Homo sapiens: one gene and its partner. The protein of the gene in region 1 purifies or fractionates together with the protein of each later gene. This does not show direct contact. Each region holds a gene or a part of one and is shown on either strand. Other genes may lie near its edges.

Evidence for each region. Proteins that work in one complex are often made in the same cells at the same time.
Region 2: the proteins of COLQ (region 1) and PLOD1 purify together in Homo sapiens (co-immunoprecipitation; 3 studies listed by BioGRID and IntAct, with this or other methods). This does not show direct contact.

Annotation. Positions count from the first base shown.
Region 1 is NC_000003.12:15,518,686-15,526,441, reverse strand, and holds the start of COLQ (acetylcholinesterase collagenic tail peptide isoform I precursor), read left to right. Parts: upstream 1-4,735; 5' UTR 4,736-4,816; coding exon 4,817-4,922; intron 4,923-7,756. UniProt on the Homo sapiens protein: Anchors the catalytic subunits of asymmetric AChE to the synaptic basal lamina.
Region 2 is NC_000001.11:11,951,693-11,958,717, forward strand, and holds part of PLOD1 (procollagen-lysine,2-oxoglutarate 5-dioxygenase 1 isoform 2 precursor), read left to right. Parts: intron 1-930; coding exon 931-1,043; intron 1,044-3,137; coding exon 3,138-3,201; intron 3,202-5,224; coding exon 5,225-5,322; intron 5,323-6,149; coding exon 6,150-6,251; intron 6,252-6,823; coding exon 6,824-6,955; intron 6,956-7,025. UniProt on the Homo sapiens protein: Part of a complex composed of PLOD1, P3H3 and P3H4 that catalyzes hydroxylation of lysine residues in collagen alpha chains and is required for normal assembly and cross-linkling of collagen fibrils.

The DNA.
Region 1 (7,756 bases):
CCCCATAGTTTTGCCTTTTCCAGAATGTCCTACTAATGGAATTATACAGTATGTAGCCTGTTGTGTCTGGCATCCTTCACTTAGCATAATGCACTTGAGATTCTTCCATGTTACTTAGTTTATTCCATTTTATTGCTGAGTAGTTTTGCATTGTATGTACACATGCAGTTTGTTTATCCATTCACTGGTTGATGGCCATTTGGGTTGTTTCTAGTTTTAGCTATTACAAATGAAGTGGTTATGAACTTTCATGTACAGTCTTTCTGTGGACATGTGTTTCATTTCTCTTGGATAAATACTGAAGAGTAGAATTGTTGGATGTATAATAAGTGTATATTTGACTTTATAAAAAACTGACATTTTTTTCCAAAGTGGTTACACCATTTTGCATTCCCACTAGCAATGTTTGAGAATTCCAGTTGCTTCATATCCTCACCAACACTTGGTATTGTCAGTCTTTTAAATTTTAGCTATTCTAGTAGGTGTGTAGTGGTATCTCACTGTGGTTTTAATTTGCATTTCCCTAATGACTAAAGATGTTGGGTATCTTTACAAATGTTTATTTGTCATTAATGTATCTTCTTTGGTGAAATATATATTCGCATCTTTTGCCTTCCTTCCTTCCCTTCTTCCCTCCTTCCTTCCCTCCCTTTTTTGAGACAGGGTCTCATTCTGTCGCCCAGGCTGGAGTGACGCAGTAATGGCTCACTGCAGCCTTGACCTCCTGGGCTCAGGTGATCCCTTATCTTCACCCTCCCAGGTAGCTAGGACTACAGGCATGCACCACCACACCCAGCTAGTTCTGTTTTTTGTTTTTTGTTTTTTGTTTTTTTTTCATAGATACAGGGTTTTGCCATGTTGTCCAGGCTGTGTCCATTTCTTTATTTCATTTCAGTTTTTTTTTTTTGAAACAGAGTCTTGCTCTGTTGCCCAGGGTGGAGGGCAGTGGTGTGAGCCCAGCTCACTGCAACCTCTGCTTCCCAGGTTCAAGCAATTCTTGTGCCTCAGCCTCCTGAGTACCTGGGATTACTGGTGTGTGCCACCACACCCAGCTAATTTTTGTATTTTGTGTTGAGATGGGGTTTCACCATGTTGGCCAGGCTGGTCTCAAACTCCTGGCCTCAGGTAATCCACCCACCTTGGCTTCCCAGGGTGCTGAGATTACAGGTGTGAGCCATGTCTGGCCTGCCATTTCTTTTAATTAAGTTTTTTATCTTATTATTATTGAGCTGTGAAAGTTTTAATATATTCTAGCTACAAATCATTTATCATATATGTGTTTGGCAAATATTACGTCCTAGTTTTTGGCTTGGCTTTCCAATTTAGTATTCTATTTTGAAGAGCAGAAGCATTAAAGTTTTTATAATGTCCAATTTAACTTTTTTAAATTTAAGATTTGTATTTTGCATCTTATTTAAAAAATCTGTACCTAACCCAGGGTCACTAAGATTTTCTCCTGTTTTCTGCCGTAAGTTTAATATTTTAGCATTTACAATTAGGTCTGTGGTCTATTTTAAAATAATTTGTATGCATGGGGCAAGGTAAGGGTTAATCTTTATTTTTATTTGTTTGTTTTGCATATGGAAGTCAAATTTTTCCAGCACCATTTGTTGCAAAGACTGCCTTATTCTTTCTAGTCACTGCATAACATTTTGAATGGATGTCCCAGGATTTATTCCACCAATGTTTCATTCATGGACAGTTAGGCTGTTTCCAACTTGAGGCAACAATGCACACCCTTGCACCTAAACCACTGGGTAGTGAATGAGTATTTCTGAGAACTTCTGGGTCAGACGGCATGTGCATTTTAAGTTTAATGGGGCCAAAAGATTGTTTTCCAGTGTACAGTCCTGCCTACAAGGTCTGAGAGGGAAGACTCTGACTTTGAATGGCTTTATTGGTGTGAGCTTTTCTCAAATCTCAAATAGTTTCCTTCTGGACAAATCTAATAGTCTATGTTATTAGATTCTGGAAACATCAGAGCCCTTCCAGGAGGATTTGAAGAAAGATGATAATTTCTGTCTTGGTCAGTTAGGGTAATCTTATAAGAAATAGGTTCATAAAATATAAGATACCTAAGGAAATGGAAATTTACTAAAAATTGTTTAATAAGTATTGGGGCCTTATAAATAACTCTGTGTTGGGGCCTCCTCAAAGGGTAGAGGCTCCTGTCGTAACTTTAGATCAGCAGTGACTCATTCTCCAGTGACTTGAATTATAAATTTAGCCTCTCTGTCTGCGGGTCCTAATTCAAGGTGGCCATCCATAGTCCCTCTCACACTCTCACCATACTCACCAAAGCCCTCCCTTGTATCAGGCGCAGGCCACCCAGCTGTATGTGCAGAGGCTCCAAGGGGTGCTGGGGAAATGCAAGTTGTGCAGAAAGCTGGAGCATAAAGTTATGCTACTTTTGTACGTTCTTCTTTTTTCATCCTACCCAGTGGTGTGATTTGATCAAAGTAACTTACATTGTTGAGGATCTGTTAGGTGACAAGGACTGTCCTGGGGGCCTTGAGAGTACATAGAGCTGTGGGATAGTCCCCTATCTTTAGGGATGTTAATGCCAGCTAAATAGCAACACAAGGTGGTGTTCAAAAACAATAGCAGCAGGTGTCACCGGTAGGACGTATTGACAGAATTTGTTCCAAGGGTATGGTCAGTGGTGAATTCTTTGTGCTGAGAGAAGGAAGAAGTCATACTGGCTTTGCAGAGGAGGAATCTGAGCTAGATAGTAAAAATTCATATTCTGACACCAAGTTACTCAAAAGATACCTTCCTCCCAGGTAGACTGTACCTTCTCCAAGCCACTGGAAGCTGGCTGCTGGGGCTCCAGGAGTTAACAAGAGTGAGCCTGAGAATGTCCTGATTGAGTTTGGCCAGCAATCACAGCTCCTTCTTGTAAAAATTTTGGGAGCAGCTAAATGGGGGTACCCTCTCTTTAATCTGTCCTATAAATTTTGAATGTAGTTCAGGTATATTTTTCATGCTTTCAAAAGCTTTCCTTATCAACTCTGTATCAGTTAGCTATTGCTGATGAGCAAGTCATCCTAAAACTTACTGGTTTGAAACAATAGCCGTTTTATTTGCTCATGACTTCGTAATCTGGGCTGGGCAGTTCTTTCGAGGGTCTCACTTGGGGTCACTCCTGTGGCTGGCATCATCTGAGACCAGGACAGGGCTAGATGTTCCAAAATGGCCTCACTCGCCTGTTGATGCTGCATCTGGGATAGTCAGAACAGCTGGAGGCTGGCTGCTTCCCCCTCCATGTGGCCTCTTCAATAGTCCAGACTTTTTAAAGTGGCAGCTGATTTTCAAGAAAAGGCAAAAGCAGGAGCTGCCAGGCCTTTTAAGGCCTAGGCCAGGAGATGGCACAGTGTCCCTTTAGCCACATTCTATTGGTCAAAGTAAGTCACAGAGCCACCTCAGATTTAAGGGAGGGGAACTAGCCCTGCTTTTTGCTGGGAAGAGTGTCATGCACACACTGGGTTGGGAGGACTTTTGGAGGCCATCTTTGCACCCAGGCTACCATGGCTCCCTTGGGTCTCCTTTGTGCTGTTCCTATGTGCAAGTTCTAATCCGTGTAGGATTCATCCCCATTACCTCACTTAACTTTCCAACAAACCTTTAAAGGGAACATTGTCTCCATTGTATGGATGAGAAAACTGAGGCTTAGAGAGGTGAGCTTGTCCACTGCCACTCAGAGCTGAGAGTCAAGCCCAAGTGTGGTGCTACAGCTGTAAAATATCACTTTATACCACGCCCTGACCCAACTCCACCTTCCCCATAATGAGCACAGGGGCAGGATGCCCACCCCAGCATCCAGTAACTAGCAGACTGTTTCTGAGTTAACTCCTATGAGGCATGTAATATGTAAATTAAAGCAAAATGAACAACTCTGTGAATTATTATTTTGTTTTAGTCATCTAATCATCTCTATAACAGGCTTTTATAAACTCATAAAAGGTATTAAGAATGTGATAATTTTTATTTGAATAATTTTGTCTAGCCAAAGATTAAGTTAGTGATGTTATTTTTCTGAATATAGTTTGATAAAAATCATTCACTTTTCTATACTTTTACTGTTTTCATTTATTTTGCCTTGCATTGAATCAAAAGGTTGCAGCTTTTGGAGAGAGAAACACTTTTTCACAGAGAAAGCTGTTTGGAAATATAAACTACTTCCTTCCTCCTTTTTATTGGATGATTAAAGAAAAAAATTAAAAGTTAACTTTACATTTGTTACACAATGGGTAAAAATGTCACAGGCTGACAGTGGAGGGGTTTTTCTCCATGAAATTCAGTTTGAATCAGGAGAGTTGTTTCTGCCCAGTTCCAAGGAGGTAGATGGTGGCACATAACCAATTAGGAATCTCTCTGCCCTTGAGGACTGCCTCCAGTGAACATCTGAGACTTGGCTGCCTTCTCATCACCTCTTCACTAGCCACTTACCTCAGTCTCCAAAAAAGAAAATTTTGACATCTTAATTTTAATGTGGGCATTTGATATGGAGCTTGAGATAAATATAACTCTCTGTAGCATGGAGACAGTTTAATGGGAAATGGTTGGCATTCTTTCTTGGTAAAGGCATGGGAGACAGGAGAGGTGGGGGAGGGAGAGAGAGGGAGGGGGTGAGGAGGAGGGAGAGGGAAAGAGAAAGAGGGAAAGACACACACACACACAGACACACACACACACGCACACACACACACACAAACACACGCGCACGCAAACAGCAGTGAGGAAGAGAAAAGCAGAGATAAGCAAGGCTCCGCAGCAGCCTCCTTTCTAACTTGACCCTCGCCAGACCCTGGCCAGCATGGTTGTCCTGAATCCAATGACTTTGGGAATTTATCTTCAGCTTTTCTTCCTCTCTATCGTGTCTCAGCCGACTTTCATCAACAGCGTTCTTCCAATCTCAGCAGGTAAATGATGGCCACAACTTTCCTCTCTTCCATCTGTCAGGGGACAGGGGGAGGAAGGAAGATTGTTTTGCAATGTGTCCTGATGTTTTTGCCATTCAACTGTTGGTGGAGGGAGGTTGGAAGGAAGACGGCCACCCCAGCAGCTTCCTGTCACCCGAGCTTGTCTCGGAAGCCCCTTCTGTCCTTGTTCCAACCGGCTCCTACCTGGCTGCTCAAAGCAGAGACACTTTGAAAAATGGTTTCTGCCTCCCCTATTCTCCCCATTTGCTGCATGATTTCATCTTGGTCAGGAATTTGGGAGAGCTTAAAAGAGACAGAGGTGTGCAAGTAATAGAGAAGTGAGTCTCAGATGTTTCTATAAATACATCTCTGACCTCTTCGAAGGGGGCTTGCCTCACAGGGGCTGTTGTGGAGTAAACAAACCTCTTTCCAGACCCAGATAGCATCCATGGCCACAATAGTCCCTCGAAGGGAAAATGCAGGTGGCAGGGGCCGGTGGGGTGGGGGGTGAACAGCGGCGGGGCAGTTGCAGCCTCAGGACTAGGTTTTCCCTTTCTCCAGACCTGTCTTCCTGGGTGCGACTTCCCTTCAGCCTCAGACAAGGCAGCTGGAGGTCCTGAGAGAAGTGAGCTTTCCAGGGAGAAGTGGAGGGGGTTCCACAGTGACAGCCAGGTCTGGAGCTGAGTGTGTCTGCCGGGTATGAGGCTGGGAGATTTGGGGAAGGGGCTGTGTCTGCCAGCCTGCAACCTTTTCTGAGGTCAGCAGCCTGTTGCCCTTGTCTTGTCTGACCCAGAGCAGGGGAAGTATTCGGTTACTAGTATGGCCTATTTAAACCTTTCTGAGGAAACTCAAATGTTTCCGGAGGGCTTGAAGGAGGCAGGCAGACCCTCACAGCCCCCCTCAATTCACCTCAGTGACCCCTGACTCTCCCCAGCAAAGTTTTAGTTATGCCTCCAACATGAGTCTCATAAATACTTCAACTGAGACAGAAATTTCACTATCGCTGCCTTTGCTGGAAACACAGGGAGGGCCAGAAATGCCAGGCTCTCAGAGAGGGCACATCTCTGAATCCAGCTCCCAACTGCTGTCCATTGATAAAAACAGCTCATCAGCAAGTTGTGTAGCCAACGTTTGTGGGCCATGAGGGAGTGACTCAGAGACTGGTGTGAGGCTAATTATAAAAGTGTGAGAAACAGAAGGAGGTGGGGGCAGATTTGTGGAGAATTCAGGAGGGTGGGCAGGAAAGGTGAGTGGTGGTGTCACCGTGGGTGTGTGCCCACATGCCCCTGCAAATTCAAGTTAAGAGCATCAAGCTTCTTCTAGGAGTGAGTAGTCATTATTCATTCCCCAGTTCAAGGGAGAAGCTTGAGAGTTAATTTGGCCTAATTTGGTGGTTCTTAATCATGTTTGGGTCATGGATTCCTTTGAGAATCTGCTGAAGGTTAGGACTTAAGGAAACTCAGTTTTCTGGTTCTAGCCCTGCCTCTGATGAGCTCCCTGACTTCTGAGAGACAGTGGCCTTACACTATAAGCACCATGTGGCCAGGGCATGTGTCTCTCTTGTACTTTACTGTTTTCCCAGGGTCAGAACAGTGCCTGGCACATAGTAATCAATAAATATTTGATGAATGAATGAATAAAAGCTTCTCATCTGCAAACTGGGGTTTACCATCATTTTGTATTACTTAATTTAAATAGCACCAAAGTGGTTAAGGAGTTCAGAAAACTAGAGAGAAAAGAACCTCTGGTTTTCTTTTGAACTCTTTGCCTTGGAGAGCACCCTGGCACAACATAGATATCTCTTAGGTAAGCTTTTTGCAGACTGTACCAATCAGGGCAACAGCAGGATAAAGAAGCAACTCAGGTGGTTCAGATGAAAAGATCTGAATGAAGGGATCACTTTGAGAGGTGTGGGCGGGGTTAAGGGAACCAACAAGGAATGCTGAGGCACCTAGAGATTAGCAACTGCAATATGCCTTTACCACCCTGTGCTTGAAAAGGCAAGAGGGGCAAATAGGAAAATGGATCCCAGGCAGATTTGGAGCCTTAGAGAAGGGGCCATTAAGCAAGAGCATTGGTCATGGAAGGCCCTAAAGCAGGGAGAAAGTGAAGGAGAAGTACACCATCTTCTCTCTCCTCCCATCCAAGCACCTTTTGGCAGCGCCTCTCATTGGCCAACCCAACTTGAAGCCAGAGGGCAGAGCCTGGAGGTCAGGGACTGGAACACTGAGGGCAGAGAGCCAAGGGGAGGGTTGGGATGGAGAACAACCAGTGCGCACATCCACAGGCACTTCTGGCTGGGAATGTGGTCATTAGACATTAGGGAAAACAATGGAATAGACCTAGCGGGAATCACTAAGGTAACCAGCTCAGTATCACAAAGATATGTTTTCTCCGGTGGTCACTTGGCTTTGCCCCCCTAATTTAGTCACCATGGCTTTATGATAGCACAGTTCAGAAATAAACTTAAGCTTTAAAAAAATGGAAGCTGTTCCTTGTAATCCTTTGGAAATATTTTCCAACAGTTTGATATAAAATATTCTATATTCAGAAGCTTATAGACTCTTAATTCTTCTGAAGATAGGCTGTGTATACACAGAAAATAAGGGCAACCAGGAAAATCTTTTCATTCTATGCATTATAACTTAGTGAGTGCCTACTGTGTGCCTGGCACTCTAATGTGTGCTTCAAGGGACACGGAGACAAGTAGGATGTGGCCTCTGCTCTGAGGGATTCCATGATCACCTGCTTTTGAAACACAGGTGGCGTGTGGTAAATGCCCCGGAAAGGGGTTGTGATGGAGGAAGAGCTCTCATGGGCCTGTAAGCCAGTAC
Region 2 (7,025 bases), on another chromosome or scaffold:
GCGGATCACGAGGTCAGGAGATCGAGACCATCCTGGCTAACACGATGAAACCCCGTCTCCACTAAAAATACAAAAAATTAGCCAGGTGTGGTGGCAGGCGCCTGTAGTCCCAGCTACTCGGGAGGCTGAGGCAGGAGAATGGCATGAACCCGGGAGGCGGAGCTTGCAGTGAGCCGAGATCGTGCCACTGCACTCCAGCCTGGGCGACAGAGCGAGACATTGTCTTAAAAATAAATAAATAAATAAAGATGCAAATTCACACACATCACTTAATGACTTTCCACTGCACGGAGAATAAAATCCACAGGCCTCTTTTCAACCTTAGATGGGGATCTGCCATCTGCCCTCAACAGACACTTTTTTCCACTGGTCCAGAGTAAGCACAGTCCAGATGGCCTTGCCCTGGCCCAGGCCCAGGAGTAGGGATGTCCCATTGCTCTTGTGGTTGCTTGTCACCAGTCTGTACTCTAGCCAGGGGCCCATGTGGGCTTCCCCACTATGCCAGGTCTCAGCCCCCAAGGCACTCTGTGAGCTTGGCCCAGCCTTTCCCTTCTCTGGGCCAGGTTTCCCAGATAACTGTAAAAAGGGACACCAGGCCTGTATCCTCCCAGCCCTGCTCTCCAGGGGCTCCTCGTACAATCCGTTTCTTCACCACCTATATGGTGCCCAGCACTGAACAGTACAGCTTAGTGGGCACCATTGGTCTTATTCTTGGGGTCATTAGGAACTCATTAATAAGTGACATTCACTGGCAGCCCCATTTCCAACCTGCAGCCCCACCTCCTGTCAATTCAGGAGGACTTCTGAGAGGTGACAGGGTTTGTGGGCATATGAGTGGAGGTGGATAAGAGGGAAGGGTGGGAGGAGGCCCCTGACTTAGAGGCTGGAAGCTAAGGGTCCGTCTTGGTGTCCCCACCCACCAACCTTCAGGCTTCATCGGTTATGCCCCCAACCTCAGCAAACTGGTGGCCGAGTGGGAGGGCCAGGACAGCGACAGCGATCAGCTGTTTTACACCAAGATCTTCTTGGACCCGGAGAAGAGGGTAAGAGGCAGTGGGCGGGCCAAGGAGAGGGGGCTGGGGATCCACCGGCCAGGCTGCACGGGAACAGCTCCTCTCAGGCCTGAACCCCTGGGTTGGTGTCTTAGTCTATGCAGGCTGCTCTGACAAACTGCCATAGGCTGGGTGGCTCCCAAACAACGGATGTGGATTTCTCATGGTTCTGGAGGCCGGAAGGGTGAGATCACAGTTGGGTTCTGGTCAGAGCCCTCTAACTGGTACAGACACAGCTGACTTCTCTCTGTGTCCTCAGATGGTGGAAGGGGGTAGGGAGCTCACTGGGGCCTCATTGATAAGGACACTAATCCTATTTTTTTATTTTTGGGATGGAGTCTCACTGTATTGCCCAGGCTAGAGTACAGTGGTGCGATCTCGGCTCACTACAGCCTCTACCTCCCTGGTTCAAGCGATTCTCGAGCCTCAGCGTCTCGAGTAGCGGGGACTACAGGCGTGCACCACCACGTTTGGCTGATTTTTGTATTTTTAGTAGAGACAGGGTTTCACTACGTTCGCCAGGCTGGTCTCGAACTCCTGTCCTCAGGTGATTTACCCGCCTCGGCCTCTCAAAGTGCTGGGATTACAGTCGTGAGCCACCGTGCCCGGCTGTCGGGTCTTAAAGAGGCAGCATTGTTCATTGGTTCAGAATAAGGACTTCAGGGCCAGGCTGCCTGGGTTCCAATCCCAGCTCACCATTTACTAGCTGTGTGACATTGGGCAACTTCTCTGTCCCTTGTTTTTTCCGTTATGAAATGCAATAATGGGCCAGACCCAGTGGCTCATGCCTGTAATCCCAGCACTTTGGAGGCCAAAGCGGGTGGATCACCTGAGGTCAGGAGTTTGAGACCAGCCTGGCCAACATGATGAAACCCTGTCTCTACTAAAAATATAAAGATTAGCCGTGCGTGGTGGTGGGTGCCTGTAATCCCAGCTACTCAGGAGGCTGAGGCAGGAGAATTGCTTGGACCTGGGAGGCGGAGGTTGCAGTGAGCCGAGATTGTGCCATTGCACTGCAGCCTGGGTGACAAGAGCCAGACTCCATCTCAAAAAAAAAAGCAATAATGATAATACTTTCTCACAGAGATGTTGTCAGGATTAAATTGATTAATATATGTAGAATAGTTTATTTATTTATTTGAGACAGGGTCTCACTGTCACCCAGGCTGATGCGCAGTGGCAGAAACATAGCTCACTGCAGCCTCAGCCTCCCGGACTCAAGCGATCCTCCCACCTCAGCCTCCTGAGTAGCTGGGACTATAGGCCTGCGTCACCATGTCTGGCTAATTTTAAGATTTTTTTATAGAGATGAAGTTTTGCTATGTTGCCCAAGCTGGTCTCAAACTCCTGGGCTCAAGTGATCCTTCTGCCTCAGCCTCCCAAAGTGCTGGAATGACAGGAGTGAGCCACCGCACCCGACTCGTGTAGAATATTTGGAGTAGCGGCCAGGTGCGGTGGCTCACACCTGTCATCCCAGCACTTTGGGAGGCGGGGGGCGGGGGCGGATCACCTGAGGTCAGGAGTTCGAGACCAGCCTGCTCAATGTGGTGAAATCCCATCTCTAGCAAAAAAAAAAAAAAAAAAAAAAAAAATTAGCTGGGTATGGTGGCACATGCCCGTAGTCCCAGCTACTCAGGAGTCTGAGGCAGGAGAATCGCTTGAACCCAGGAGGCGGAGGTTGCAGTGAGTCGAGGTCGTGCCATTGCACTCCAGCCTGGGTGACAAGAGCGAAACTCTTTCTCAAAAAAAAGAATATTTGGAGTAGCTATGTGCGTGTAGTGGAGTGCTTGGCAGGTGCTGGTTACTCTTAACGGCCGTCATTGTTGTAGGTGAGCCGGCTGCATTCTTAGATTCCTTCCAGTTCAGAGTCCCTGGTTTTCTGTGAGTAGAGCCACTAGACTGTAGACCCCAGGAGCTTGGCTGCTGGCCTTCTCTGGGCACCTAGCTGCCCTGATGTGACGTGGCAGAGTCGGTGTGGGGAATGAGGGCTGAACTTGGGGACAGATTCCCCACACTGGGTGAGATGTAGCCCCAGCCTCCCCCAGGGCCTGTCCCTGCTGCAGTCTGGTACCTTCTTTCCTGCAGGAGCAGATCAATATCACCCTGGACCACCGCTGCCGTATCTTCCAGAACCTGGATGGAGCCTTGGGTGAGCAGCCCCCACGGGGAGGGGTGGATCCTCAGAGGGGTGATAGGAAGAATTCCAGGCAGGGCCCGAGCCCAGGGAGGAGAAATGGGCTGCTTCTTTCTGGCCATTGTGCTGAGAGGTCACTGGCCTCATCCCCAGGTCCCCAGGGGCCACTTGGATATCCTGGCGCAGAGCCATGTCTCTCTTGGGGGCGGGGGACAAGTGAGCATTCAGCCTGGGAGGAGTTGGGGGATGCGCACAGCAGGTGCTGGACCCCCTGCCCTGCATACCAGGTCCTTACAGGTGGGCCCTCTTTCCCCACTTTCCCGGCCCTCCCACCTTCCAGGTGAAGGAGTCCTGGGCTAGGGGCAGGAACTCAGCTGGTGGGACAGGCAGCTTGGGAAGCAAAAGGCTACTTGACCCTTGATGCCGCAAACATCCCTGGGCCTGGCCTCATGTCTGTGGCTGGTGATGACATTGCTTTGCCGCAGGTCTTCCTGTCTTCCTGAGTGACCTCAGGCAAGTCACACCTCCTCCCCACAGGGGACTCAGTTTTCTTATCTTTACAAAAGGGAAGTGAACCGGATCCACTGATTGCTGATTTTGTGGATAAATGGGCCCTTTTGAGAATCTGATGAAAGCTACGGCTCTGCTCCCAGAGAAACGCAGAAAATGCCCTTTGCCTGTGGTTTCTGGGGGTTAAGAAGCACTGAGTTCAGATCCACGCAGGTCAGGAGCTATCTGTTTTCCTTTTTTTTTCTTCTTTTTTAAGATGGAGTCTTGCTCCATCGCCCAGGCTGGAATGCAGTGGCGAATTCTCGACTCACTGCAACCTCCGCCTCCCAGGTTCAAGTGATTCTCCTGCCTCAGCCTCCCAAGTAGCTGGGATTACAGGCGCACACCACCATGCCCGGCTAATTTTTGTATTTTTTTAGTAGAGATGGGGTTTCACCATGTTGGCCAGGCTGGTCTCGAACTCCTGACCTCAGGTGATCCACCTGCCTTGGCCTCCCAAAGTGCTGAGATTACAGACGTGAGCCATCGTGCCCAGCCCTATTTTAATTTTTAAAATAGAGACAGGGTCTCACTATGTTGCGCAGGCTTGTCTCAAACTCCTGGGCTCAAGTGATCCTCCCACCTTGGCCTCCCAAAGTGCTGGGATTACAGGTGTGCGCCAGCGTGCCCAGCTGAAATACCCATTTTCCTATGTGCAGACTAATAGGGTCAAACATGGGTATTGGGGGCCAGGCACTGTAATCCCAGCACTTTGGGAGGCCAAGGCGGGTGGATCACCAGAGGTCATGAGTTCAAGACCAGCCTGACCAACATGGTGAAACCCCGTCTCTACTAAAAATACAAAAATTAGCTGGGTGTGGTGGCATGTGCCTGTAATCCCAGCTACTCAGGAGGCTGAGGCAGGAAAATCACTTGAACCTGGGAGGCGGAGGTTGCAGTGAGCCGAGATCATGCCACTACACTCCACACTGGGCAATAGAATGAGACTCCATTTCTAAAAAACAAAAAACAAAAACACACACAAAAAACATGAGTATTGGAACCCTGCTGCAGGGGCTCCCTCCACTGGGACAAGATCTGTCCTGATCATGCCCAGGCCTCCCCTGCATGTGGCTCTGGCATTTTCTCAGTGCTGCTCTGCCTACTCAGAGAAGGCGCGTCCCAGACCCTTTCTCTTGGGGCTTCTCTGAGGTGCCTGGAGCTGGGATGTTCCAGGTCTTCGTTCTTCTCCCAGCCCCTGCTTCTGACTGTAAGTAACCACAACAAGTACAGGGGTTGCCGTGGATTCTGTGCTCATGATGGGCCAGGCTTGGTGCCCCACGCTTGTTCAACACAAATCCTCCCCCTCACCCCATGAAGAAGGGATTATTCCTATTTTATAGATGAGGAAACTGAGGCTTAGAGAGAAGTGACTTGCCCGAGGACATAATCTACTCACTGCACAGCTGGGATTTGAGCCCAGCTGGTTGGACCCTGAGCCTGACCTCTGGGTCTGATGCTGGGTGGGACTGTGCTTTCTGACCCCCAGATGAGGTCGTGCTCAAGTTTGAAATGGGCCATGTGAGAGCGAGGAACCTGGCCTATGACACCCTCCCGGTCCTGATCCATGGCAACGGGCCAACCAAGGTAGGGGGTCCCCAGCCCCTGGGGAGTGTGGGAGGGGGCCAGAGCCCTAATTTCATTCTCACTGTGACCCCACAGTGTCTCCCTGGGGCCAGGGCCACCTTCCTGGGGCCTGCTATGAACTCACTGCCTCTGTCCTCACATCTGAGCTCAGCGTGATGCCTTCTTTTCCTGCTGTGGTGGTCAGTGGTACTCTGTCTGTTCTTGCTGGTCACAGGACACGTAGGAGGCTGCCATCCCCTTCCAGGCCTAGGCTGGGCTACCAGAGCCATCTGCACTGTCACCCCAGGGCAGAGTCACTTATTCACTCAGTAAACCTTTATTTCATGTTTGCACCAGACAGTAAGACATAGTCATAAGCAGGACGGATGTCCTGCATTCATGGTGACAGAAGGGACTGGGTGCAGATGCGGCCAGGGACAGAATGGACCTCACTGGTCCCTGGGGAACTGGCTCATAGCTCATAGCATATTTGAGTGTGGTCCTTCACCGCTGGAATGAGGGAGAGGAAGGAGGATGTGATGTGTTTAAAATGCAAATTTGCTGATTTCACCCAGGATCTGTTCAGATGGAATCTCTGAGCGGGGTGGGACCCAGGAATCTGCATTTTACAAGCTCTCGGGAGAAGCACTAGAGTGCCAAGCCCTCCCCTGCCCTCTCTCAGAGCGGCTTGGTGATCTCCTGGGGATGGAGCATTATCTCCAAGACCCTCTTAGGGAGTGGGAGGGGGCTGGATGGTGCTGACCCACTGGGGGCCCAGGGAGATGTGAGTCAGGGCTATGGCAGGTGGGGCTGGCTGGCTTCTCTGTGACCCCACGTCTCCCCGACAGCTGCAGTTGAACTACCTGGGCAACTACATCCCGCGCTTCTGGACCTTCGAAACAGGCTGCACCGTGTGTGACGAAGGCTTGCGCAGCCTCAAGGGCATTGGGGTGAGGCTGCGCCCAGGCCTGTGCCTGAGGGACACGGGGGGCTCAGTCCCCTGAGATGGCGAGATGGGTGATTCTGGAATAGACTCCATTGTCTTTGGTGGAAAGTGAAGGGGTCACCTCCCTGCCTGGGGTTCTATCCCGGTTGCCACCCAAGTGCCTCCTCCTGGAAGCCCTCTCAGATTGCATGTCTCTAGCTTCCCCCGAGATGTCCAGGTTCTGGTTTCTTCTGCCTGGTCCTTCAGGCTCTCCTGCAGCCCCCTCCCCATCCCATGAACCTCATCCTCATTTATGACTCACCTCGAACACCACGCCAGCCACGATCTCCTGACAGCAGGCCCTCAACCGAGTCCTTGTTCCAGGCCTGGGCTCCTGCTGCTCTCTCCCCGGGGCACCCTCCTGCTGCTTCCCTGCCCCCCCGTACCCCCTGACTGGAGTTCCCCGGCCCGGGCACCTTTCTTGGGAAGTCTACATGCTTCTGATTCTGGCTCTGACTCCCTTGGGCCACCCTGGGGTGGAGTGGCAGTGCTGTGACTGGACACTGCTGGACTCTTGTGCCGCCCTCCCTGGTGCAGGATGAAGCTCTGCCCACGGTCCTGGTCGGCGTGTTCATCGAACAGCCCACGCCGTTTGTGTCCCTGTTCTTCCAGCGGCTCCTGCGGCTCCACTACCCCCAGAAACACATGCGACTTTTCATCCACAACCACGTGAGTAACAGGCGCTCTGTGGGGTCGTCATGTGGCTTAGATCCAGGGCCCAGCTTCACAAGGTAGCCCG